Homo sapiens: one gene and its partners. The protein of the gene in region 6 interacts with the protein of the main gene of each other region in a pairwise test. Each region holds a gene or a part of one and is shown on either strand. Other genes may lie near its edges.

Region 1 (3,500 bases), on a different chromosome or scaffold from region 6:
AGCACAGCTACAGATTGCTTCTTATAGAGGCCAAGTTTCCTGGCAGCAATGCTTTAGTTCTTGGAAAAGGAAGTTCTGCTCCAAATGTTAGCTGCTTACTTTGTTTGGCTTGGGCTTCTGAGGCTCATCTTTGGTGTGACACTCTTTGAAGGCCAAGAAAGGGCTGTCATTTCAGGGGATGGTGGGTAATAGGACTCACTCCTTTTGTGTCTCTGAGAACAGAGGCAAATGCCTCTACCTCGATTTTCCCATGACAGAGATAATTTGATCTTTCCAAATCTGTTCACACTGATGCAATTCAGCCATGTAAATCACTAGGTATTCATGCTCTCTGGGCTAAAAACAAACTGTAACTAATGTTAACAGAATCAGGAAAAGGAGTCCCCTTTCCCTGGTACCCTATAGAAAAGTGAGTGTGGCTTGGAGAAATGCTTGAATACAAAAATCCAAGCCTAAGTAATTAATACAATTTATTTTTATTGTACAAGCTGTCACAACCTGCTTATTCAAAAATAGCAGCTTCCCAGTACATTTGCTGAGTATTTGTGTGTGTGCATGTGTATACTGTGTTTATAGATATATAAAATCAGTGGGTATATATACATATATTTATATATATACATACATATGAATTAAGACATTTTTTCTGAAGAGCTTAACATTCTCATTTCTTCTACATTTTAGGGATCTGGCCGAGAGGCCAGAGGAAGCCATTCTTTTCCTCATCTAGTCAGTCATCTACTTGGCATTTGCTAAGGTTCACTCCATATGACATCTTAGAGCATGGGACTAGTACTTGGAACACAGCTGCTTTCAGAGCCTGTGACTTCTTGTGTGCCTCTCCTGTTTCTCAGCAACACTGGCATAGGGCCTGGGATACCAGGTCTGGGGATCTCAGGGACTCTTAGCACTTTAAGACACATGTGTTCCCAGGCCCTGGTGTGTTCCTCTAGTGCCAGAAAGATGTTTCATGCTTTGCTGACTTTGTATAAAGTCTGTTTGTAGCTGTTTTGACAGAATCTCAGCGTATAACTGAGGGTGGGGACATTAGCCAAGCTGCATTATAGGAGGACAAAACTGCCATACAAAGTGTCCAAAATCATTAAGCCTGCATTTTTATTATTGGGAGTAATATCAAACCTCCTATTTTCCAATTTTCATTTCTTGTCCTGTGCTAGCTCCATCCTGTTTGGACTGCTCCTCCCATATGTAAACTAAGAAGAATCAAGCATTCTTTGCAACAAATACACACGATGCTCAAAAATGTCCAGGAGCATCCAATTTCCAAAGTTTCCTCCACCTGGAATGCTCTTCATGCTAAAATCCTGTCTGACAATACCAGCATCTCTGGCCTGCACTCATCCCTTCCTGGAACTCCAAGTGCATTTACCCTCTGTTACCACTTACTTGGCTGCCTGAATTGTTAGTTGAAAATATTAGGTCTACTTAGCTAATTCTTCCTCAGGAAATTAAAGACTCCCATATGGCAGAGTCTGTGTCTTTTCTCTCTTCATATCCCGTATAACACCCAGCATAATGCTGGGCATATAGTGAGTATTCCATAAATAGTTGATGAATGACTAAAATAAGCAAGCAAACAAACAGACTAGAACAATAAGAAAGAAGGGACTGATTTCATAATCTCTCTGGCTTGCTATTTGAATTGCTGAATTATTATTATTTATTAAATATTTTTTAAATTCTGGCAATAAAAGGTAAGGATTTATTTTCTTTCTTTCTTTTTTTTTTTCTTGAGACAGAGTCTCGCTCTTACTGCCCAGGCTGGAGTACAATGGCGCAATCTTGGCTCACGGCAACCTCCGCCTCCTCCTGGGTTTAACAGATTCTCCTGTCTCAGCCTCCTGAGTAGCTGGGATTACAGGCATACGCCCATGCCCGGCTAATTTTTGTATTTTTAGTAGAGACGGGGTTTTGCCATGTTGGCCAGGCTGGTCTTGAACTCCTGACCTCATGTGATCCACCTGCCTCAGCCTCCCAAAGTGCTGGGATTACAGGCATGAGCCACCGTGCCCGGCCAAAGATTTATTTTCAAGAATGAAACAAAGTAAGGATTCTGGGTCAATCTCACATGCTGAAAGCCAAAACCTCTAGCCGCTCCTGCTTTTTGACTTCGGAGTGCCCACTATCTCCGAGCCTGTGAGCACAGGGCCTGGCAGAGGGGTTTGAGTGGCATGAGCTACCTACTGGATGTGCCTGACTGTTTCCCCTTCTTCTTCCCCAGGCTTGTTAGAGTGCTGTGCAAGATGTCTGGTAGGGGCCCCCTTTGCTTCCCTGGTGGCCACTGGATTGTGTTTCTTTGGGGTGGCACTGTTCTGTGGCTGTGGACATGAAGCCCTCACTGGCACAGAAAAGCTAATTGAGACCTATTTCTCCAAAAACTACCAAGACTATGAGTATCTCATCAATGTGTAAGTACCTGCCCTCCCACACAGACCCATCTTTTTTTTCCCTCTCTCCATCCTGGAGATAGAGAACTCTTCAGTACCTTAGTAACTAGCAGGGGACTGGGGTGGAGCCAGACCGGATTCCCGAGTCTTCCCTCTGTGCAGATCTCTCCTGCTCCACATTCGAAGCCCATTCAGAAAGGAGGGGTCTGCCTGCCTGCCTGTCAGCCCCTCCCACCCCCGCCCCCTTGTTTTCTTACACGTGTTCTGACTTCTGCTAGGTGTGGTTCATATTGCCCAAGTTGGAGCCTCCAGCGTAGTAGGTATGGAGAAGCCAAGGGAGGCACTAAGCCTCTCCTGTTCCTAGAACAAGTTAGGCTCCTGTTCCTTCACCCACCTTTCTTCTTGTCTAGCTCCCTACTCCTGTGAGTTAGCATGTCTGAAGGGTGGGGCAGGGAGAGTAGGTCCCTGGTTCTCCAGGTCCCAGGGTAAGCAAGGTGTGGCGGGAGGGGCATATGTTTCTGGTCACATACACCCTGTCTTCACTTATTTCAACAAAGATAAGGTGAAAGCATGCAGGAGGAACCTGGTGATTCCTCTAGAAAATCCCTAGCCTTGTTAAGGTGCTCGCTCTGGTGTATACCTCACTTATGTCGGGAAAGAAGCCAGGTCTTCAATTAATAAGATTCCCTGGTCTCGTTTGTCTACCTGTTAATGCAGGATCCATGCCTTCCAGTATGTCATCTATGGAACTGCCTCTTTCTTCTTCCTTTATGGGGCCCTCCTGCTGGCTGAGGGCTTCTACACCACCGGCGCAGTCAGGCAGATCTTTGGCGACTACAAGACCACCATCTGCGGCAAGGGCCTGAGCGCAACGGTAACAGGGGGCCAGAAGGGGAGGGGTTCCAGAGGCCAACATCAAGCTCATTCTTTGGAGCGGGTGTGTCATTGTTTGGGAAAATGGCTAGGACATCCCGACAAGGTGATCATCCTCAGGATTTTGTGGCAATAACAAGGGGTGGGGGAAAATTGGGCGCGAGTCTGTGGCCTCGTCCCCACCCAAGGCTGGGTCCTCTCTAGGGGCCTGGCATTTGA
Region 2 (3,500 bases), on a different chromosome or scaffold from region 6:
AGCAAGTTTTCTGTGGACTGTTCCCCCCACTGTGGTAGGACAGGACTGGCCCACTTAGTCCTCAAGCTCCCAACCTGCTGTCCCTCAAGCCCCGCTTCTACCAGCCTGTGGAGTTCAGGAGGCGAGACATCCTGGCCTCCTTTGAGAACTGATGGGATCTACCCCCTGTCCACGCGGGACAGTTTCTCAGAACTGGTTCATAGACCACCTGTGTCACCAACAGCCAGATACCTAATCCCTGAGCCTCCTTTGGGAAGGTCTGGGGCCGAGGGTCTGGGAATTTTTTTTTTTTTTTTTTTTTGGGACAGAGTCTCATTCTGTCACTCAGGCTAGAGTGCAGTGGCATGATCTTGGCTCACTGCAAGCTCCACCTCCTGGGTTCAAGCGATTCTCTTGCCTCAGCCTCCTGAGTAGCTGGGACTACATGCGCACACCACCACGTCCGGCTAATTTTTGTATTTTTAGTAGAGACAGGGTTTCACCATGTTGGCCAGGCTGGTCTTGAACTCCTGACCTCGTGATCCACCCGCCTTAGCCTCCCAAAGTGCTGGGATTACAGGCGTGAGCCACCGTGCCCGGCCCAGGACTTTTAAAACAAGCATCCCAGGGGATTCCGGTGCCTACCAGAAGTCGCAAGCTGCTTGGCTCTGGAGGGCGCCTAGGAGTCGGTGTCGCCTAAGATGGGATAATGGCTTCAGGCAACTCCTAGCCTTCCCCATATCTCCTGCCTCAGCCCCCCTGGCCCAGTGCTGGGGCGTCAGCTAAACCTGAGCTTCCAAGAAGTCAGGTTGCCAAAGGAAGGAGCCTTCTGAGACCCTCCCCAACCCACCCAGGTTCCCAAGGCCCTGCCGTACCCTGGGGAATCAACCAAGGAGTTCTTGTTCTCGAAGAACCCCAGGCCTCATGATGGTCTACGGTAGAGGTCCAACAACTACAGCCTGTGGGCCACATCTGGCCACAGCCTGATTTGTAAATAAAGTTTTATTGGAACACAGCAACACCCATTCCTTTCTGCATTGCCTTGTGCTCTGGGGCTGCAGGTGAAGAGTAGCTGCCACAAACCACCTGGCCCATAAAGCTCAAAATAGTTGCCATCTGGCCCTTTACAGACAGCTAGCTGACTCCTAATCTAGGGCAAACGCAGGTGCCTAAAAAGGACCAGAAAGGAGACCAGAATGAAGGGCAGGGGGGTGGCAGGGCCTGTGGCAACTGGAGAGTAGGCGTCCTGTGCCACGGGAATGTTGCCAGGTCCGTTTTTCTAGGGAAAGCAGAAATCTGGATTTTTATGTGGAATCTCACTGTAGGGGTGGGGAAATCTCATTTTAAAAATGTAATCAGGCCAGGCACAGTGGCTCACACCTGTAATCCCAGCGCTTTGGGAGGCCAAGATAGGAGGATGAGTTGAGCCCATGAGTTGGAGACCAGCCTGGGCAACATAGTGAGACCCCATCTCTACTAAAAAGTATTAAAAAGTAGCAGGGTGACCAGGCATGGTGGCTCACACCTGTAATCCCAGCACTTTGGGAGGCTGAGGCAGGCAGATCACAAGGTCAAGAGATCGAGACTATCCTGGCAAACATGGTGAAACCCTGTCTCTACTAAAAATACAAAACAAAACAAAACAAAACAAAAGCCAGGCATGGTGGCACGCGCCTGTAGTCCCAGTTACTCGGGAGGCTGAGGCAGGAGAATCACTTGAACCTGGGAGGCAGAGGTTGCAGTGAGCTGAGATTGTGTCACTGCACTCCAGCCTGGGTAACAGATCGAGACTCCCATCTCAAAAAAAAAAAAAAAAAAGGAGCAGGGCATGGTGGTGTGTGATTGTGGTCCCAGCTACTCCAGAGGCTGAGGTGGGAGGATCCCTTGAGCCCTGGAGGCGGAGGCTACAGTGACCTATGATGCCACTGCACTCCCGCCTAGGCAACAGACCCTGTCTCAAAAAAAAAAAAAGTAATTAAAAATTTTAAAATTCCTTGAGGAGGGCTAAACAAGGCATGCCTGTGGGCACTGCTGTGAGGTCTGGCCTAGGGATTTGTAGGGCCACAGTTAGGGGGAGCTGAGGCCCATATATGAATGGTGGGGCAGAGCACTCAGCCAAACCTGGTGGCCTCTCTGCCTCCCGTCGAATGCAGAATCTCACCCAAGCGATGCCCAGTGGCTCTGACCCCGCCTCAGGGTGCGGCCCCTGGGGGTGAGCCTGCCAGGCACCCCCACCTCCCTCCCACAACATCCAGAAGCTCTGGGAAGGAGGGGGGAGGTGGTTCCCCTCCACAGGGGCCAAGGGTCTTGGTCCCACTCTCCAAGTACCTGCCACGACACTGCAGGAAGGTGGGCTGCAGGATGGGGGGGTCAGGGAACCCCGAAGCACAGACGGGAACGTCCTTGTCCCCTTGGACGACCCAGGGCCCGGGGCGCCCTCTGGTGGCGAATCTTCTCACAGCCTGACTCAGGATGCCCCCAGCGCTCCAGGGGCAAGAAGAGCACGAGGCAGACGCGGTGGGTCTCTGAGAACTTAAAATAACCCTCACCACGTGGCGGGGTGGGCGAGGAGGGGGCTCACAGCAGAAGCAGAGTGGCCCCGGGGTGGGGGCGCCACAGGACACTGAGGGTTCACACCACCCCAGCCTGGGCCTGGTAAGTAGCAGGTCAGCATAAATCCAACCCCGCGAGGCACATCCAAACCCCACCCAGAGGGGTTCAAATGACAGGAGTGGGAACAGAGGGGCTCCCTGAGGCTTCAGGCCCCATCCCCAGGAAGACTGGCCCGGCCTCAGCCACCTTCAAGCACAGGAGTGAGGCCTCGGGTTCCAGGGACGATGGGGGACCCAGCATTAAATATGTCATAAATAGGTGGGCGGACACTGTGCGGACAGGCGGGGCTCACATTCCTCTAGACCACTGGGGTCCACTGGGGGACCAGGGCCTGGGCCCTCTCCCAGCGATGCCACGGGCCTGAGAGGGCTGCTGGGAAGGAGCCCGGGAGCCCCCTGCAGTCTGAAGTCCGGGCCGAGGGCACAGGAGCCCGAGGCTCACGGCTGCTTTGTCTTGCCTCTGTTCTTCTGGAGCTTGGCATGCACGACTTTGAGCGTGGTCAGGAAGTTGCCGAGGAAGAGGATGAGGAAGGTGAACGCCAGTACGAACACCTGGGGGAGTCCAGAGAGGAGGGCGAGGCTGGGGCATCTGCCCTGCTGAACCCCTGCCCCCAGCACCCCAGAATCTCCAGCACAGCTGCCCCCAAACTCCCAAACTGCAGGGTTTTGCCATCGAAGGCAGAGATTCAGGAGACCTGGGGGAAGGGTGAGGCCTCAGGCTTGGGCAGGGCCTGGGAAGGGCTCGATGGGGCGAACCTCCTTGGGATCCACAGATTGGGAGAGGCTCCACCCCTAGCCCTTCCAGAAGCCTCCCGCCAAGCAGGCCCCCCACAACACCCCACACCTGCCAGCCCAGCCCGCCCCAGGAACCTCCCCACAGCACACCACACACACGCACACACCCCACCC
Region 3 (3,500 bases), on a different chromosome or scaffold from region 6:
GCCCTGGCTTCCATCACACTTACACAAAGCTCAGGGATTGCAGCTTTGCTTCCGACTAAGTCAGCAAAGATTCCAATGCCAGGATGATGATCTGGGGTGTTAGGAACTCTGAGGTCGTGCCATTCTCCTTTGTCTCTGCAGATGGCTTATGCTGATTTTAATCTCCTTATTTCTGTAAGACTCAGCGGTTTAAAAATATTAAATGGGTTATTTATTAAAAATATGGTGAACTCAGCTCTCAGACTTGACTGGGGGATGGAATAGTCTGGCTAACCCAGTGTTCTGGTTAAGGGCATCAGTAACTGTGCAGAACCATGTGTAGTGTGCCAGTTTCAAAGAATTAGAGCAGAAGCCACATTTAGCTCCAAGCTGAACTTGAGTTAATAGGGATCTTTCTTTGATAGTTGGAACAGCTGGCAGGATTAGTGGATGCCTTGGGTTATCACTGAGAATGTATCAGTGTGCCAAGTGACTGTCCATGGAGACTTTCATATATTCAAAGATACTTTGTGGATTTGTCCAAAACCAAAGAAACTGGTACTTTAGGGGTGCAAGGAAGCCTCTAACTTGCATTGATGTCAGTGTTGTTTTTAGCCTTTTGGTAAAAGAAGTTCTATCAGCTCCCAACAGTGGTTTCTCTGGGCTGTGTCTCCTTCCACATCTCTGATTGAAGAATTTTATAAAATGGGCTGGAAATCTCCAAGACCTGACCCTAGAGCTTCAGAGCACTGCTCTTCCATGGGAGAAGCCTGGCTTTGGCCTAGGCCTCTGGCATGGACTTCTGTGGGTGGTGAAGTGAGCCCATGAAATTCCTGGGGTCAGTAGTATCATGCTCTTTTATACAATCCCAGTTCCCGCACTGAGAGAAGATGGACCAGTAGGGAAAATGGGGCACTAGGCAAAGTGGGCCCTGGGGCAACCTGCCTCCTTGCCCTAAAGAGGCAGAGTCTGAAAGAAGCAGCACTTCACCCAGCCCAAGGGCAGGGGATGGCCTCTTTGCGGGTTCATTTGGACTTTCAGAACACATAGTCTCTCCTTTGGGAGAGGCTCCTACTCTCATTCTGGAGGCATTGGAATTGGTCTTGGATGTTGATCTTGTACATGGAAGTCCTTCTAAGACTGTTTGGAGTCTAAGACTGTCTAATTTGGAAAAATTAGACAACTCTTGCCCACTGAGCCTCCAACATTTTAAGACTAAGTGGGACCTTGAGAAGTCTGCTCCACTGCACCAGCTTCTGGTCCAGCTGCCCTCAAACTATGCCATGTCAAAAGCTGGACTCCTTGTGTTCACTTGGGTCAGAGCTTTTAGGAGCTGTGTTTTCATGCACAATAGAGGGTGTGAGAAGGAACTGGAGGGAAAGGAGGCTCTGGATTCAAGACTTGAGTGGAGAACCTCTATTTGTTAGCTGGTTAGCCTGGGGAAGGCTATGCTCAGCCTCCCTGTTCCTACCTGTAGAATGAGACCCACCTGTAGAATGAGAACCACCTGTAGAATAGGAACCACCTGTAGAATGAGAACCACCTGTAGAATGAGACCCACCTGTAGAATAAGAACCACCTGTAGAATAAGAACCCACTCACTGGGTTGTTGTAAAGTAGTTAATGTATTGACTAAAACGGTGAATGTTAGGGTCTGAGTGTGAGTCCTGGCTGCTCTGCTCATCACCTGTGTTACCTTGTCAAATATCTCAACTCTCAGTGGTTGATTTTCTTTATCTGTAAGATTGGGATGATGATAATAGCATGGCCTTCACGGAGGTTTCTGTGAGGATTAGGTGAGCTAATATATGTATGTCATCCCACCACCTTCTGGCCTCCATAGATTTGGGGAAAAATTGGCTGTTCATCTTATTAAGGATTCCTCATATGTGGTGAGTTGTTTCTTTCCGTTTTTAAGATTCTCTGTCTCTATCTTTCAACAGTTTGATTATCATGTGTCTAGATGTGGATCCCTTAGAGTTTATTCTACCTGGAGTTCATTAAGCTTCATAAATTTGTCGATTTTTAACGTTTTTCATCCAATTTGGGAAGCTTTTGGACATTATTTTTCACATACCTTTTTTGCTCCTTTCTCTCTTTCCCTCTCCTTCTGGGACTCCCTTTACATAAACTTGATGGTGTCCCATAAGTCTCCGAGGCTCTCGTCATTTTTCTTTATTCTTTTTATCTGTCTGTTCCTCAGACTGGCTAATCTCAACTGACTTATCTTAAAGGTCACTGATTCTTTTGCCTGCTCAGATATGCCATTGAGCCCCTCTAGTGAATTTCTCATTTTAGTTATTGTACTTTTCAACTCCAGAATTTCTATTTTGTCCTTAAAAATAATTTCTGTGTCTTAATTGATAGTTTCTATTTCATGAGGCATCATTTTCATCTTTAATTGTTTTGATTGTTTTTTCTTTGGATATATTTACTATAGCTGATTTAAAGTTTTTGTCTAGTAAGTCCAATATCTGGCTTCCTTACAGATCTATTGACTTCTCCCTGCCCCATGTATGCCCCTTATCATTTTAGTTCTTTGTGTGTCTTGTATTATTTATGTATGTATTTATTTATTTAGAGACAGAGTCTTGCTCTGTCACCCAGGCTGGAGTGCAGTGGCATGATCATAGTTCACTGTAGTCTCTAACTCCTGGGATCAAACAATTCCCTCACCTAAGCCTTGGGAGTAGCTAGAATTACAGGCACATGCCACCACTCCTGGATATTTTGTGGGGTTTTTTTTTTGTTTTTTTTTTTTTTTTTGGTAGGGACAGGGTCTTGCTATATTGCCCAGGTTGATCTCAAACCCCTGGCCTCAAGCAGTCCTCTCACTTGGCCTCCAAAAGTGCTGGGAATACAGGAGTGAGCCACCACACCCAGCCAGTATTTTTTAAACAATATAATGTGGCAACTCTGGAAATCAGTTGTTCCCCCTTCTTGAAGATTTGTTCCCGTTGTTTGTTTAGTGACTTTTTTGAACTAAGATGGTAAAGTATGTGTTTTTTGTCATGTGTGATCACTGAGATCCCTGTTCAATTAGCTTAGTGACCAATTATAAATTTCCTAAAACGCTTGGCAACAATGCCTCTCCCAGTCTTTACTGAGGGGCTCTGTGCATATGACTTTCATGCTCAGCTAAGCCACCCACATCTCTGCCTTAGCCTTCACTTCCTGCTTGAACAGAGTCTCAAGATAAGGCAGAGAGTGCTTAGGGCCTTCTCAGGTCTTTCCTGAGCATGCATATAGCATTGTGCATGCATGTGGCCTCCTAGATTCCCAGGAATATGTTGGAGCTTTTCAAAGCAACTTATGGACATTTCAGTCTCCAGTTTTTTGGTTAGCCTGTTGTTTTCCCTAACTGTTATCTACTGCCTCAGACAGCCATGATGTTAATCAATCATCTCTAATTATTTTCAACAAACATCCCCAGGGAGAAAGACTATTTGCACTGGATGAGCTCAGAGTCAGGTCAAACAGAAACAGCTTCTCAAGTGGGGGTTTTCAGGGAATCACCAGAC
Region 4 (3,500 bases), on a different chromosome or scaffold from region 6:
CCCACCCTAGCCTCCCGAGTAGCTGGGACTACAGGTGTGCACCACCACGCCCAGCTAATTTTTACATTTTTTGTAGAGACAGGGTCTCGCCGTGTCACCCAGGCTGGTTTCAAACTCTCGGGCTCAAGCGATCCTCCTGCCTCGACCTCCTAAAGTGCTATGATTACAAGCATGAGCCACTGTGCCGGGCTTGAAATGTATGCTTTAAATAGGTGAATTGGATGGTATATGAATTATATCTCAATAAAGCTGTTTTGTACAAAAAGGAACCACTACTAAAGAAGAGAAGAAGAAGAAAAGAATCCCCAAAGAAATCAAAGAGAAAAGGAGGGGAGGAGCCAGGAGTTCTGACCTCTGAGTTTTCCGGGAAGATGGGGTGGTTTATGCTGCAGCTGGTGCTCTTCAAGGCCCCAGACACTTCGGTGGAGGAGGCAGACTCACAGGCCAGGCGCCAGGATCGCTGTGAGCGCTGGTTCTGGAAGGCAGGGGAGGCAAAGGCGGTGATATCCACCTCCGGCCGTGAGGATGGGGAAGCAAAGGTCAGATAGAGCCTGAGAAGGATGTGGCTACCTGGAGCGTGGACACCTTCCGGTAGGACAGGTCAAGCGGGAAGAAGAAGGTGACCTGTGTCCTGTAGGAGTCCTCACCATCATTTCTCACAGTCACTGTCACGTTGAACTCCCGGGGCCCACCCACCACGAGGCAGTCCAGGCTGTGGGAAGAAGAAGACAGGCCGGGGGATGGGGCGCTGGGCTTCCCTGTGGCAAGCCTGCTCCAGCAGAACAGAGACGCAGACACTTGATGAAGAGACAACAGTGGAGGGGCAGCCACACCGGACCTTATAGCCCAGGAACACCCGGCTCCCTTGGGGGCCAGGAGGAGAAAAGAGCGGGTCATGGTACGGGTCCTTCTCTGGAGGAGGTGAGGAGGAAAGGAAACTCACCTCATGAAACTGAAGGTGATGCTGAGGTCATCCTGGCAGATGTTGTCATTGCCACAATTCTTCTCAAAGGGAAACTTTTAAAAAATAAATATGATCAAATGAAAGGAAAGAAAATAACCAAGTATTGTGAAATTAAACAATAAAATCAAATGTTGAAGTAAAATTAGATGCAATCAAATAAAATGAGTTTCAACCACCTTGGTCTCTGGTCTCTTCCACACCCCTGCAGGACCCCAACTCTGGACTCACCAAGGCTGTGAAGAGTCTCTGAGCATCCTCCGCCAGCACTGGCCGGAGGTTCCCGAAAGCAGACAATGGCGTTCCCACCAGAGAGAAGTTCAGGCGCAGCACAATGGGGCTCACTGGGTCCTCGATGCAATTCTAAGAGATAGCCGGGATTTGGGGATCTGCCCTCCTCAGCTCCCCAAGCCCACTCCATGCTTGGAAGACCCAGGGGTCTGGCCACTAGCCTGCTCACCGGCAACTGTAGTTTCAGGGTCTCACAAGTCTGGGTCAGCCCCAAGACCTGTGTCTGTCTGCGTGTGCTGTTCTTTGTCTCATTGAAGACGGCGCGGGAATGTGGGCGGCCGGAGTCCAGAGCCAGGTCATAAGTCACAACACTCTGGATCTGTCCTGAAGGGACAGGGTGGCACAGCAGTGAGGGGCCTGAGCCTCGGAACCCGGCAGATGGGAGTTCAAGGCCCAGCTCCTCTGCTTCTCAGCTGTGTGACTTGGGGTATGTTATCTGACTTCTCTGAGTCTTCTTTCCTTCCTTCCTTCCTTTTTCTTTCTTTCTTTCTTTCCTCGCTCTCTTCCTCCCTTTCCTTCCTTCCTTCCTTTTTTCCTTTCCTTTCCTTCCTTCCTTTTCTTCCTTTCCTTCCTTTCCTACTTTCCTTCCTTTCCTTCCTTCCCTTCTTCCTTCCTTCCTTTTCTTCCTTTCCTTCCTTTCCTACTTTCCTTCCTTTCCTTCCTTCCCTTCTTCCTTCCTTCCTTTCTTTTTATTTTTTATTTTCTTTTTTGAGACAGAATCTCACTCTCTTGCCCAGGCTGGAGTGCAGTGGTGCCATCTCAGCTCACTGCAACCTCTGCCTCCCAGGTTCAAGCGTTTCTCCTGCCTCAGCCTCCCAAGTAGCTGGGATTATAGGCACATGCCACCACGCCGTGCTAATTTTTGTATTTTTAGTAGAGATGGGGTTTCACCATGTTAGCCAGGCTGGTCTCAAAGTAATCCACCTGCCTCAGCCTCCCAAAGCGCTAGGATTAAAGGCATGAGCCACTGCGCCTGGCCTCCATTCTTTATTTTTAAAGTGAGGATAATAATGATACCCTCCCAATGGTAAAAAGGAAATGAAATAGTGCTTATCAAGTATTTAGCACAGTGTCTTTTATACAATAAGTGCTCAATAAATGGTAGCTATTCTGTCACTCACTAAAAAATTTATTGTATTTTTCTGACTACTTTAAATTTTTTTCTCTTTGTCTTTGGTCTTCAGCAGTTTGATTATAACGTACAATGATATAATGTCCTTCATATTTATCCTGCTTTGATTTTGTAAAGAATCTTGATGTCTTTCATCAGTTTGGGGAATTTTTTTTTTTTTTTTTGAAATGGAGTTTCGCTCTTGTCACCCAGACTGGAGTGCAATGGGGCGATCTCAGCTCACTGCAACATCCGCCTCCCAGGTTCAATTCTCCTGCTTCAGCCTCCTGAGTAGCTGGGATTACAGACGCATACCACCACACCTGCTAATTTTGTATTTTTAGTAGAGATGGGGTTTCACCATGTTGGCCAGGCTGGTCTCAAACTCCTGACCTCAGGTGATCCACCTGCCTCGGCCTCCCAAAGTGCTGGGATTACAGGCGTGAGCCACCGTGACTGGCCAGTTTGGGGAAATTCTTTAACTACTGCATCTTTCCTATTCCATCCTATTCCATCTTTCCTATTCTGTCTTTCCTATTCCATCTTTCCTATTTTCTTTCTCTCTCTCTCTCTCTCCTCCCCCACCACCACTTTCTGTAATTCCAATTACATGTTTGTTAGATCTTTCACCATATCCCACACATCTCTTATGGTGTTTTTCTGTATTTTTCTTTCTTTTTATCGCATATTTATCCAGATACTTTCAAATGACTGTCTTCTTGTTCACTAATTCTCTGTTCTGCTTCTAATCTGCTATAAATCTATTTACTGAATTCTTCATTTCAGTCAGTGCGATTTTTGGTTCTAGAGTTTCCATTTGACTCTATTTTATGAATTCCAGGTTTTTGCTGAAGTTCTCATCCTTTCCCTTTTTTCTTGAAGATATTAATTATAGTTACCTTTTAAAAATTCCTATCCAATCACTCTAATTTCTGAATCACCTGTGGGTCTATTTCTATTGTATATTGTTTCTCTTGGTTGCTAGTCAGTTGTCTCAATGGAAAGACCAAGGTATTTACCAAGGCCTCTCAAATCTCTGTCTCCCCAGCACTGAGGAGCTGCTGAATTCTCTGATCAGCTCTTTGGCTTTTCAGTTGCTGTTTTCTACTGGGTGTCTTGGAGTACTGACCTAGGCAT
Region 5 (3,500 bases), on a different chromosome or scaffold from region 6:
CCAGCCCCTAATACCTGCCTAGACCCAGGCCCCACTCTGCCTAGAAGCTGGAGAGGCCTGGGGTGAGCTGGGGCCTTTGCATCCAGCTGCATCCAGGCCAGGGTATTCTGGGGTACCAAGACCAGAGGCAAGGGGCGAGCCCCAGGCATGAAGGTGATGGTCAGGAGCACTCCTAGGAGAAGAGATGCAAAAAGGTGGGAAGGCCCAGCAGGGGACACGGCTTCATACCCAAAAGTCCAGAACATTCCACCCCATGCCCGACTGCATCTAAATTCCAGGGCTGAGGAGGCCTTCGGTGAGGTCCTGGCTCCCTCCACCCCTCTTTCTCCTCTGTGCCTGCCTCCCTATTGTCTCCACCCTCTCTCTCTCCTTCTCCACCCCGTCTCTTTCCTTGGTCCAAGGCCTGTCTCCCATTGCTTCTGGCCCTGCCCTCCCTGTCTCTCCTTCTCTCTTCTTCCTCCCCACTGCTGGCCTCAGCCTCACCCTCCCTCTGCCTGGCCAGATAGGCCCCGCCACCACCGTCTGGCTGCCACTTACTCCTGGGCCACTTTTAGAAACATGACTCATGGAAAGAGAAGGGAATGGAAGCTGCTGTGAGGTCATGAAGGCCCTCCCCATGCAGCTGCCCCCGGAGGACCCCTCCCCAGGAAGCCCCAGCACCTTCCACTATGCTTTGTGGCCGTCCCAGGGGCTAAGTGCACTCACACAGGGGAGATGGACCACATCAGCAAAGGCTCACTTGCAAAGATGCCCACTTGAGGCCACTTAGGCTGCCTTCTCCCAGGCAGGGCTGGTGCACCCAAACACTTCCCAGCTGGGAGACAAACTACCCAGCTCCCATCCTCAGGATATGGGAGTGTCTCCAAGGCCATAGAGAATTTTGCAAAATCCAAGGTAGGGGGGCACACCTTGGAGGTTTTCCCAGCCCCACCCTGAGGCCATCCTACAAGAACAATTCTCTTCCCGCCTTTGTCTGCAGCCCTGGGTTACAGGGAATGACTCACATCCCCTCCCCTGCCTTGCAGCCCCAGCTTTGGGCCTTTCCTGGCGGACCCCAGGGCTACATCCCTTAGGTCCGCCAGCCCTCTGGCCAATGCCCAGTTCCCTTTCTGTCCCAAGGTTGGGCCAAAGAGGCAGAAGCCCTGTGTTCAGGTTCTGACTCTTCTACTTTCTGGCACCATGAGCATGGCCTATTCCCTCTGGTCTTCAGTCTTCCCATCTGCAAAATGGATCTCATTGTCCGTGCCTGCTCTCCAGAGCAGCTGGGAGGTTCAAAGGCCAAAGGGGCCGTCTCAGGGCTTTTGGAAAGAGTTGTCGACGCAGGAGGGATGGGGCAGTGGTAGTGACTCTTGTTTTGGTTCTTCTCATTGTGTGTGCAGGATCTGGGGACAGGCAGAAGGAGTGACGGCGGGTGGAGCTGCTGGCAGAAGCCTGCCCAGAGTTAGGACAGGCTGAATGGGGTTGAGGCTGGTGAGGCCAGCCCGGCTAGTCCTGATGCCCACCCACACTTGCACCTGTGAGGCCCCTGTCCCTCTGTATCTGAGCCCTCAGGAAGCTCGTGGCTCCTTCTATTCCTCTCTCTTCTGCTCTCCAGGGTTGGCCTAATTGCTAGCTGGCAGAAGTCCTGAAACCAGCCCTTCCCCGATGATTAATGGAGTCATCGCTGTAAGTGGCTCCCGCCTTGGAGAACCCTCCCAGCCCCATCCCTCACAGATGTGACCAGAAAGAGCTCATCTCCTCTGGTTCTTAACCAGGTGCGAGAGCCCCAGCCCCTACCCAAAGACAACATGCTTTTCATGCAAAGTGGGCAGAGCAGAGGGTGATAGTTCCAGGCCCTGTACTCTGAGTCCTTGGGAAGGGGAGGGGTCAGCCACCTGCCCTGGGAATTCTGGAATGTGCCTTCGTGACTGCTGAGAACCACATGGGCTGACAGCCTTCCTCTCCAATACCCACTACCACTACCACCAGGAAGCCTCCCCTGATAGCTTCAACATCTACTGACAACCTTCCTTCAACTATCTAATACACTTGCATTATTTACATCTGGAAACACTTGATAATTCAGAATTGGAAGGGGCACTCAAAGGCCTGTTGAAACTCAATGTCCAGGAAAGAGCAGGTAAAATACTTCAAATGTACGTTACTGTTTACAACCCATTAAATTTGAAAACTTGCTTAAACAAGGACAGTTCCCATTGTAGTCACTTGTTTTATATATATGTACATATATATTTGCACATCCCCAGGTAGTTTTGCCTGGCCCAGGTCTTATTAAGGCAAAAAAAAAAAAAAAAAAGTAAGAATCAGAACAATTCTCAATTCTCAATTCTCAATTGTCTTCCCGCTTTTGTCTGCAGCCCTGGGTTTTGTGAATGCAAGTATTACCGAAAGAATAATCCACACATTTCTTCTGAAGTGTCAGAAAGATACAAGCTCTCCATTTTGTGCTAAGCCCTTGTAAGCCCACTACTCAAGGCCCAGTTCAGACCCCACCAGCTCCTAGAAGCCTTCCCAGATCCCTGGCTGGAATTAACTTCTGCTCCCACCCACCATGCCCTCACTGAATTCTCTGTGCATCTTGTAGGAAATCAATCTTCCTGCGGCCTATGTGGGTGCATCTCCTCCTGGCCTGGGAGCTCGGTGAAGACAGAGTGGGGGACCTCTGCCATTTCTCTGCCCACGCCTCTGAGGGGAGGCTTACTGTGTGCTGATAGAAGTGGCAGAGAATGCTAATTTTCTAGAACTCCCACCCTTGCTAGGGGCAGCCTGGCTCCAGAGATGCTCTCCGGACCCAGGGCGGTCTTCTTCACTTTCTAGCTGGGAAACAATGGGCCAATCATTAGCCTCTGGGAGCCCTAGAGGGCAGCCTGTGCGATGGCTCAGTGAGATGATGACGCAGAGGCTGAGGCCCAGGGAGGATGCAGCAAAGCCAGGATCCTTGCCCCATAGTCTGTGCCACCCTACACTCACAGGTCAATGGGCTGGCCACTCCTAGGCCCAGTCAAGGGACCTGGCTATTCCCAGCTTGGACTTGGGAGCTGGCAGAAGGTGGTTCTGTGGCTGCCAGTGTGTCCTGGCTCTAGGGCAGCCCAGGGATGATCTCTCCAGGCAATGTGCTCTAAGCACTCCCTGCTACCCATAGACAGGCCAACCAGGGTGGCTTCCAAGGCATGGGGCCCCTGACTTGGCCTGGGCACCCTGGTGCCCTGGCCTTGGGGAAGAGCAGGCTCCAGAGCCAGGCCTGACTGAGGCTCTGAGCTTTCGTTCTCAAGGGATAGGAGACATCGAGGCCTGCCCTGCCCACCCCAGTGCCTCCAAGACTCAGCACTGGGCAGTGAGGGGACCTATGTGGGCTCCAGAGTGTCACTCCTCCATGGGTGTTCACACGTGGACATGGGGGGATTCCTGGTTTTGTGTGCCTCTGTGTGTCTTTGTAGATAAGTGTCTGCTGTGTCTGTGATGACCACATGTGTCCAGGGCTGACTCCCTCTTTCTCTTTT
Region 6 (3,500 bases):
TTAGCCTGAAGCTGTTGGCAAGTCAGATACCACATGCCAAGTAACGTGCCACAGTAGTATTGCTTGGATCTTAGAAAATTATGGGATAATAATTACAGCAACTTTGCTCTAGGACCTTTGGAAGGAGTTCCCTCTGTTTCAAAGAAGTACAGCTAAAAATGGCTTTTCCTCCTCCTTACTCAGATATAGGAGGTATAGTAATGGTGAGGCTCTGGAGTCGGACTGCATGGGTTTGATTCCTAGTTTACTAGTTTACGCTTAGTAGCTCTGTGACCTACAGCTTTAATCATGCTGAGTCCCAGTTTCCTAATTTGTAAAATGCAATAATATCTGTATTACAGAATTGTTGTAAGGTTAAATAACATATGCAAAGTTCTTAGAGTAGTGGTTGGCACATAGAAAATGCTCAATAAAAATAAGTTTCGTTACAATTGAAAGATTAATAAAAAGAAAACAGACCTTTCACCTAAATATCAGGTGACTTCCCCTTTTCTCAAATTCCCAAGAAAAAAAATATAGTAGCATAAGATTTTATTTTTTTTTGAGATAGGATCTTGCTCTGTCTCCCAGGCTGGAGTGTAGTAGTGTAATCATGGTTCACAGCAGCCTGAAACTTCTGGGCTGAAGCAATCCTCCCGCCTCAGCCTCCCAAGTAGCTGGGACTACAGGTGTGCACCACCACATCCGGCTAATTTTTGTATTTTTTGTAGAGACAGGGTTTCACCATGTTGCCCAGGCTGGTATCCAACTCCTGAGCTCAAGCAATCTGCCTGCCTTCGCCTCCCAAAGTGCTGGGATTACAGGTGTAAGCCACTGTGCCTGGCCAGCATAGGATTTAAAATTTTAAAGTTGTTTCCTTGGCAAATGTCAATATATACTAACCTCCCGTGTAATAGCCATAAGCATAAAGAACTCGTCCAACAATCCAGGCCAAGCCCAGGCCAGAAGCTATACGCTAAGAAAAAAGGGCTACATTAGTATTTGCATGAAAGAAACAAGCAAACCTTTTTTAACACCTAGGGTTGATTACACAATATGTTAGCAAAAAGTTAACAATTTGATGATTTGGCCAACTACTCCCCACGCAAATTAGGTAGAATTAAGTTAGTTTCAGCGGGAAAATAAAATATCTGTGATTCTTCTATGAATGGCTTGGCTTGTGGACCTGGGAGATGAGTATTGGCCTTCTCCTAGACAGGTGGGATAGAAGGAATCCCCCCACTTGCCCTGGGCATCTTGGGGAACTTGTGTCAGAGCTCAAGAGAAGGACATGTGGGCCAGCCGGTCTCAGGGCAGGCCAGAAAAGAGAACTGCCCCAAAGTCAGGACTAGGGGAAATGCCGTTTTCTCAAATGGGCCTCTGAGCATGAGATTGACTGAAGACTCAGCTGCTGTTCTATGTGAAGTCAGTCACTGGCAGGGCTGGGCTCAGGTGGTTCTGCAGGCTACACTGGGGGTGTAGCTCCACTAGAAAGAAGGGGAGCGCTTCTCCCAGAATACATGGTCTTCGAGGGAAAAGTCTCCCTGTTCCCAATGTCCTTGAGAAGAGAGAATAAAAACTTAGATGAAAAATCCATCCCTTTGGCTGTCATGCTGGGGTGACTTCCTTGGTTAAAATAAGCAAGGAGAGAACACAGAAGACAGCATGTGAGAAGGCCGCCTTCCCCAGTGTCTTTCCCACTCAGCAGTGCTACTGTTAGGGATAAGGTTACTGCATCAGGGTTTTTGTTTGTTTGAGTTGATTTTGGGTAACATTAAATGTCAACAGGAGGGTGAAACAAATGAAAATAACACCAGTCCCTCAAGTCACGATATAGCAGCTCTAGTCTCTGCCAGGCCCTTCTTTACTATAATGTTGCCTAATGACTGGCAACCTAGGAACAATTGTTAGGTGCTTGTCCCCAAACTAGCTCTTATTTTTCAGAACTACCCATAAGGAATGGGATCCAGGGATGTGTGATAGGAATGGGGATGGAGTGGGGACACCAAATGAGGACTAATCTAGAGACCTGAGCTATTCAGATCAGCTAGTCTAGTCACTTGCTAGGAATGGGGATCTTTAGAGGCACCAGAAAGATACATTTTCTAAGAGATACAAGAGCAGTAGATGTTTCTTTGAAAAAAATGCAGGCCTTCAAGGTCATAAGCAGTAGATATGCCATTCTGGCAGCTTTTTAACAAAAGTACAAGGCATTCAGGATGAACCAGATGGTTAGGAAAGGCTTAGAACCAGAAGTCTGAAGGGCCACTCTGGTCAGAACTTGGTTTCAGGAGATAATCTGTCCTCAGAAAAGGGGAACACTTCTGTCTAAGACAAGACCCAAATGGCAATTAATTAGAGGCTGATAAACTTGCTTTATTTAGATATGTTTAAGTGCAGACTAAATCTCCATCCCACAGGGCTATCTATACTGCAGAGGCCTGCAAGTCCCCAGTGACCTGCCTCATCACCCCTCTGCCCTCTGTTGCTGCCCCTCTCCTGGCTCCATTGGCTTCTCACTGCTCACCAAACAAACCAGACAGGTGCCTGCCTCAGGCCTTGCTTGTCTTCTGGCTGGAGGTTGGGGAAACTCGTGCAGCACCTGCTCCCTCACCTCCTTTTATACTTGCTTAACTATCATCTCAGCAAAGCCCCCCTCCCTGACCACCCTATTCAAAATTATCCCACTCCACATCCCCTTTCCACCTTCCCCACTTTGTTTTCTTCTCTGCACTCACCACCTCCTAACACATGATGTAATTTACTTAGGTTGCTTCTTCTCTGTGACCACCCCACACCCCACAACAAAAAGGCAAGCTCTATGAAACCAGGGGTCTTTGTCTGCTTTGATCACTGCTTTACCCCAGGTGGTGAGTGAAAGTTTGTTGTGTGAATGAATTACTATAACAAATGAACTCTTATAGACATGAAACTTAGAACCAGACAGACCTGAGTTCAAATTCTAATCCTTCTACTCTGTAGCTATTTGACCTTGTGAAGTTTAAATAGTATATGAGAGGCTTTTCCTTATCTGTAAAATATGAGGAAAATCCCATCTCCTTTAAAGAACTCTGTAAGAAATAATTGAATAAAATCCTTTTAAATATGCAGTGCCTAGACACTGAAGATATTCATTAAATGTTTATTTCCTTCTTCTGTCCCTGATAATAGCTCAGTGAACTACTATCCAAATAGATGAACACCTCCTGGAAAACTTACCGGGTGGTAAACACCTCCAACAGCTAGAAAAAATAAGAAGGGAGGATACACTTCCAACCTGGAATTGACAGAAAGAAACTTTTAAAAAGTGCCCTTTTTAAGTATGCCTGTGTAGAATTATGAATTTTTTTTTTTTTTTTTTTGAGACGGAGTGTCTCTGTCACCCAGGCTGGAATGCAGTGGCATGATCTCAGCTCACTGCAACCTCCGCCTCCCGGGTTCAAGTAATTCTCATGCCTCAGCTTCCTGAGTAGCTGGGATTACAGGTGCGTGCCACCATGCCTGGCTAAGTTTTGTAGAGA
Region 7 (3,500 bases), on a different chromosome or scaffold from region 6:
TATGAACTATGTATACATTTAAGAAAGATTAATAAAAACCAGATAGGCCAGGTGCAGTGGCTCATGCCTGTAATCCCAGCACTTTGGGAGGCCAAGGCGGGCAGTTCCCCTGAGGTCAGGAGTTTGAGACCAGCCTGGCCAACATGGTGAAACCCTGTCTCTACTAAAAATATAAAAATTAGCTAGGCTGGTGGCATGTGCCTGTAATCCTAGCTACTTGGGAGGATCGCTGGAGCCCAGGAGGCAGGGGTTGCATTGAGCCCAGATCATGCCACTGTACTCCAGCCTGGGTGACAGAGCAAAACTCTGTCCCAGGAAAAAAAAAAAAAAGCCAACAAAGATAATTACCCAGTATTTGGTGAATCAGTGAGTAACAGTGGTTGTGGTGGTCTATTAAAAACATGGAATCATGTTTGAGAAATGAAAATTGTCAGGAGCACATCCAGCTCCATGCAGATCAAAAACAATTCAAATACGGTGGGATCTCTGAGTGCTTTTGTGCCATAGCGTTTATTGTCATGCATTTGTATGATCACCGTAGACTTTACCAATTTTTATTCGATAATAATTTGTATTCATCCATTCATTCATTTTTCAACCCTCTTATTCTGGTTTGGGGTGCTGGTGGCTGGAGCCAATCCCAGCAGCTCAAGGAGGGAGGAACCCACCTTGGATAGGAGGCCACTCCATCACAGGATACACTCATGTACACACTCACACTCAACCCAGGACAACTTAAACATGCCAGTGAACCTAATGTGCACTGTTTTGGGATATGGGAGGAAACCAGAGTCCCACAGATGTGGGGAGAATATGCAAGCCCCACACATACTTAAATGTTATAACAAAATGACATAGAAATGATGTTATTTGAGGACCTGCTGTATTTGGTTTAAGGTACAGCTTGTTTTGGGTTATTCTTTTGGGTAAAAGTTCTAACATATAGTTTCTTTAAATCTGTTACTCTGTAGATGTAATTGGTTTGATCAGTCACTGTATTAATAGCTCCAGAGCCAATCTCATAAAAAGGAAATGCATACAACAAATTGTTCCCTGGATCTTAATTTTAATCTAAAATAAAATAGTGTTAAATGGGAAGTGTTTTACCAAAAATATAGATTCAAATTGTTATTCCTTTTTATGATTTTATAGTTTTATAGAATGTTATCTTAAGTAACATTTTAATAAGATTTGATGTTAAGTACTGAAGACTGTCAAGCTTGGAACACATAGTAATTATTATTATCTCACTACCACAGACATATCCTATTTACAGACTTCTACTTAATAGTAGTAGTTTCCATCATGCCTTCTTTCAGAGATCCCACAAGCTATTGCTGCCTGTGGGGCCTATACTTTGATGATTAATAAAATAAGAATTTACATGTCATTACAGAAAAATTATATATAGACTGAAAATTAACTGTATTAACTGTCCAGAGATAATCGTTATTAACACTTGGGGACATTTTGTTTTCAATCAGTATACTTATGTGTCAATTTTGAAATAAGAAAAATGAAAAACGGAGAAAAAAAGTCAGTAATTAACTGCCAGACATAGTGACTGTTAACATTTGTTGATATATTATTGTTAATCAACATATTACTACCTTACCCCAGGTGTCAGATTTTATTTTCTCCTAAGTCCTTTTATACATCCCATAAAAGCCCATCTCAACCTGTTAGCCCATTCCTGAGAGAGGAAAGTGCTGAAGGGAGCAGAAGGAAGTGCTGAAAGAATGGCAAAGGGGAAGGTAAGTATCAGGCATGACTAGTTAGAACCCGGCATTTACTTTGGCAAAGAAACCATATGGTTTATGGTGTTTAGATTCTGTAGTGTTCAACTTGGGTCTATTATATTCTGAATTATATAGTAGACTGGGCATTTTTGGCTTGAGACTCTGTCCCCCTTCATAATATTGGTCTGTAGCAAGGAGTTCCAAACACTCAACTTCTATCAAATTTTCTTTCCTTAAAGAGTTATTAACTACCTGTATTTTTCTAGCATATATTCTTCATTGTCTAAACAGGTGGCTAAAGGCTGTTATTTAGGTTGTCTATAACACTTCTACTTAGAAAATAGCAGCTTATAAAAGCAGAACTACCATTCGACCCAACAATCCCATTACTGGGTATATATCCAGAGGAGTGTAAATCTTTCTGCCGTAAAGACATACACCCATGAATATTCATTGCAGCACTATTCACAATAGCAAAGACATGAACCGGCCTAAGTGCTCATCAGTGACAGACTGGATAAAGAAAATGTGGTACATATACACCATGCAATACTATGCAGCCATAAAAAAGAATGATATCATGTCTTTTGCGGGAACATGGATGGAGCTGGAGGTCATTATCCCTAGCAAACTAACATAGGAAAAGAAAACCAAATACCACAGGTTCTCACTTACAGGTGGGAGCAAGATGATAAGAACTTATGAACACAAAGAAGGAAACAACAGACGCTGGGGTCTACTTGAGCGGGGAGGATGGGAGGAGGCAGAGGAGCAGAAAACTGTTGGGTACTGGGCTTAATAACGGGATGATGAAGTAATACATACAACAAGCTCCCCATGACATGTGTTTACCTGTGTAACAAACCTTCACACATACCCCCAAACTTAAAACAAAAGTTAAAAATAAGGGACATAGCAGCTTAAACTTGACATATATTTAATGACTTTTGTTTGAATTCTTCAGGTAAAATATAAATAGATTTTCTTTTGTTCTTTATTGAGATTCATCCTTTAAGTTGCTTATGTTGATATTTGCTTATGTTGATATTTGCTTATTGTAGATCTAGTGGATTGGAAAATTATGGGAAGATTTTATTTATATTTGAGTAGTCACTTTTTTTTTTTTTTTTTGAGACAGTCTTGCTGTGTTGCCCAGGCTGGAGTGCAGTGGCACGATCTCGGCTCACTGCAAGCTCCACCTCCCGGGTTCACGCCATTCTCCTGCCTTAGCCTCCCGAGTAGCTGGGACTACAGGTGCCCGCCACCATGCCTAATTTTTTTGTGTTTTTAGTAGAGACGGGGTTTCACCATGTTAGCCAGGATGGTCTCGATCTCCCGACCTCGTGATCCACCCGCCTCGGCCTCCCAAAGTGCTGGGATTGCAGGCGTGAGCCACTGCACCTGGCCGAGTAGTCACCTTTTATGAAGATGTGTAGCAGAATACAGTTAAGAAAGGAATAATAATTAGACTTGGTAATTCCTATTTGAACATATGGTTTTGTGAGGTTTTTGGGCTTAAGTGGTCTTAAAAGGTCAGAAATTTTAAAAATTATTTTGAGACAAAACATGGGAAAGGAGGGAGTTGGCCAGGAGTTTATCATGAAGCATATACAGGAGTCATCCCCTACGTTGACACTGGTAAGTTGTACTTCAGTCACATGAAACATGTCACCTTTCCATAAATACTCCATTCCCTTTTGTGATTTTGTTCTTTGCACATGTTGTTCTATCTCTGCCTGGAATGTGTTCTCCACCTTTTGA

The links.
Region 1: the proteins of MGST3 (region 6) and PLP1 interact in binary tests that used the Homo sapiens proteins (3 or more experiments, as listed by UniProt).
Region 2: the proteins of MGST3 (region 6) and TMEM120B interact in binary tests that used the Homo sapiens proteins (3 or more experiments, as listed by UniProt).
Region 3: the proteins of MGST3 (region 6) and CACNG1 interact in binary tests that used the Homo sapiens proteins (3 or more experiments, as listed by UniProt).
Region 4: the proteins of MGST3 (region 6) and ITGAM interact in binary tests that used the Homo sapiens proteins (3 or more experiments, as listed by UniProt).
Region 5: the proteins of MGST3 (region 6) and AQP1 interact in binary tests that used the Homo sapiens proteins (3 or more experiments, as listed by UniProt).
Region 7: the proteins of MGST3 (region 6) and PLN interact in binary tests that used the Homo sapiens proteins (3 or more experiments, as listed by UniProt).

Annotation. Positions count from the first base shown.
Region 1 is NC_000023.11:103,783,340-103,786,839, forward strand, and holds part of PLP1 (myelin proteolipid protein), read left to right. Parts: intron 1-2,242; coding exon 2,243-2,429; intron 2,430-3,125; coding exon 3,126-3,387; intron 3,388-3,500.
Region 2 is NC_000012.12:121,775,252-121,778,751, reverse strand, and holds part of TMEM120B (transmembrane protein 120B), read right to left. Parts: intron 3,144-3,500; coding exon 3,030-3,143; 3' UTR 1-3,029. UniProt on the Homo sapiens protein: Necessary for efficient adipogenesis. Does not show ion channel activity.
Region 3 is NC_000017.11:67,047,554-67,051,053, reverse strand, and holds part of CACNG1 (voltage-dependent calcium channel gamma-1 subunit), read right to left. Parts: intron 1-3,500. UniProt on the Homo sapiens protein: Regulatory subunit of the voltage-gated calcium channel that gives rise to L-type calcium currents in skeletal muscle. Regulates channel inactivation kinetics.
Region 4 is NC_000016.10:31,322,475-31,325,974, reverse strand, and holds part of ITGAM (integrin alpha-M isoform 2 precursor), read right to left. Parts: intron 1,577-3,500; coding exon 1,422-1,576; intron 1,325-1,421; coding exon 1,193-1,324; intron 1,018-1,192; coding exon 944-1,017; intron 713-943; coding exon 571-712; intron 476-570; coding exon 353-475; intron 1-352.
Region 5 is NC_000007.14:30,918,353-30,921,852, reverse strand, and holds part of AQP1 (aquaporin-1), read right to left. Parts: intron 1-3,500. UniProt on the Homo sapiens protein: Forms a water channel that facilitates the transport of water across cell membranes, playing a crucial role in water homeostasis in various tissues.
Region 6 is NC_000001.11:165,651,734-165,655,233, reverse strand, and holds part of MGST3 (glutathione S-transferase 3, mitochondrial), read right to left. Parts: intron 3,257-3,500; coding exon 3,199-3,256; intron 956-3,198; coding exon 883-955; intron 1-882. UniProt on the Homo sapiens protein: Displays both glutathione S-transferase and glutathione peroxidase activities toward oxyeicosanoids, as part of cellular detoxification as well as synthesis of bioactive metabolites.
Region 7 is NC_000006.12:118,554,796-118,558,295, reverse strand, and holds part of PLN (phospholamban), read right to left. Parts: intron 1-3,500. UniProt on the Homo sapiens protein: Reversibly inhibits the activity of ATP2A2/SERCA2 in cardiac sarcoplasmic reticulum by decreasing the apparent affinity of the ATPase for Ca(2+).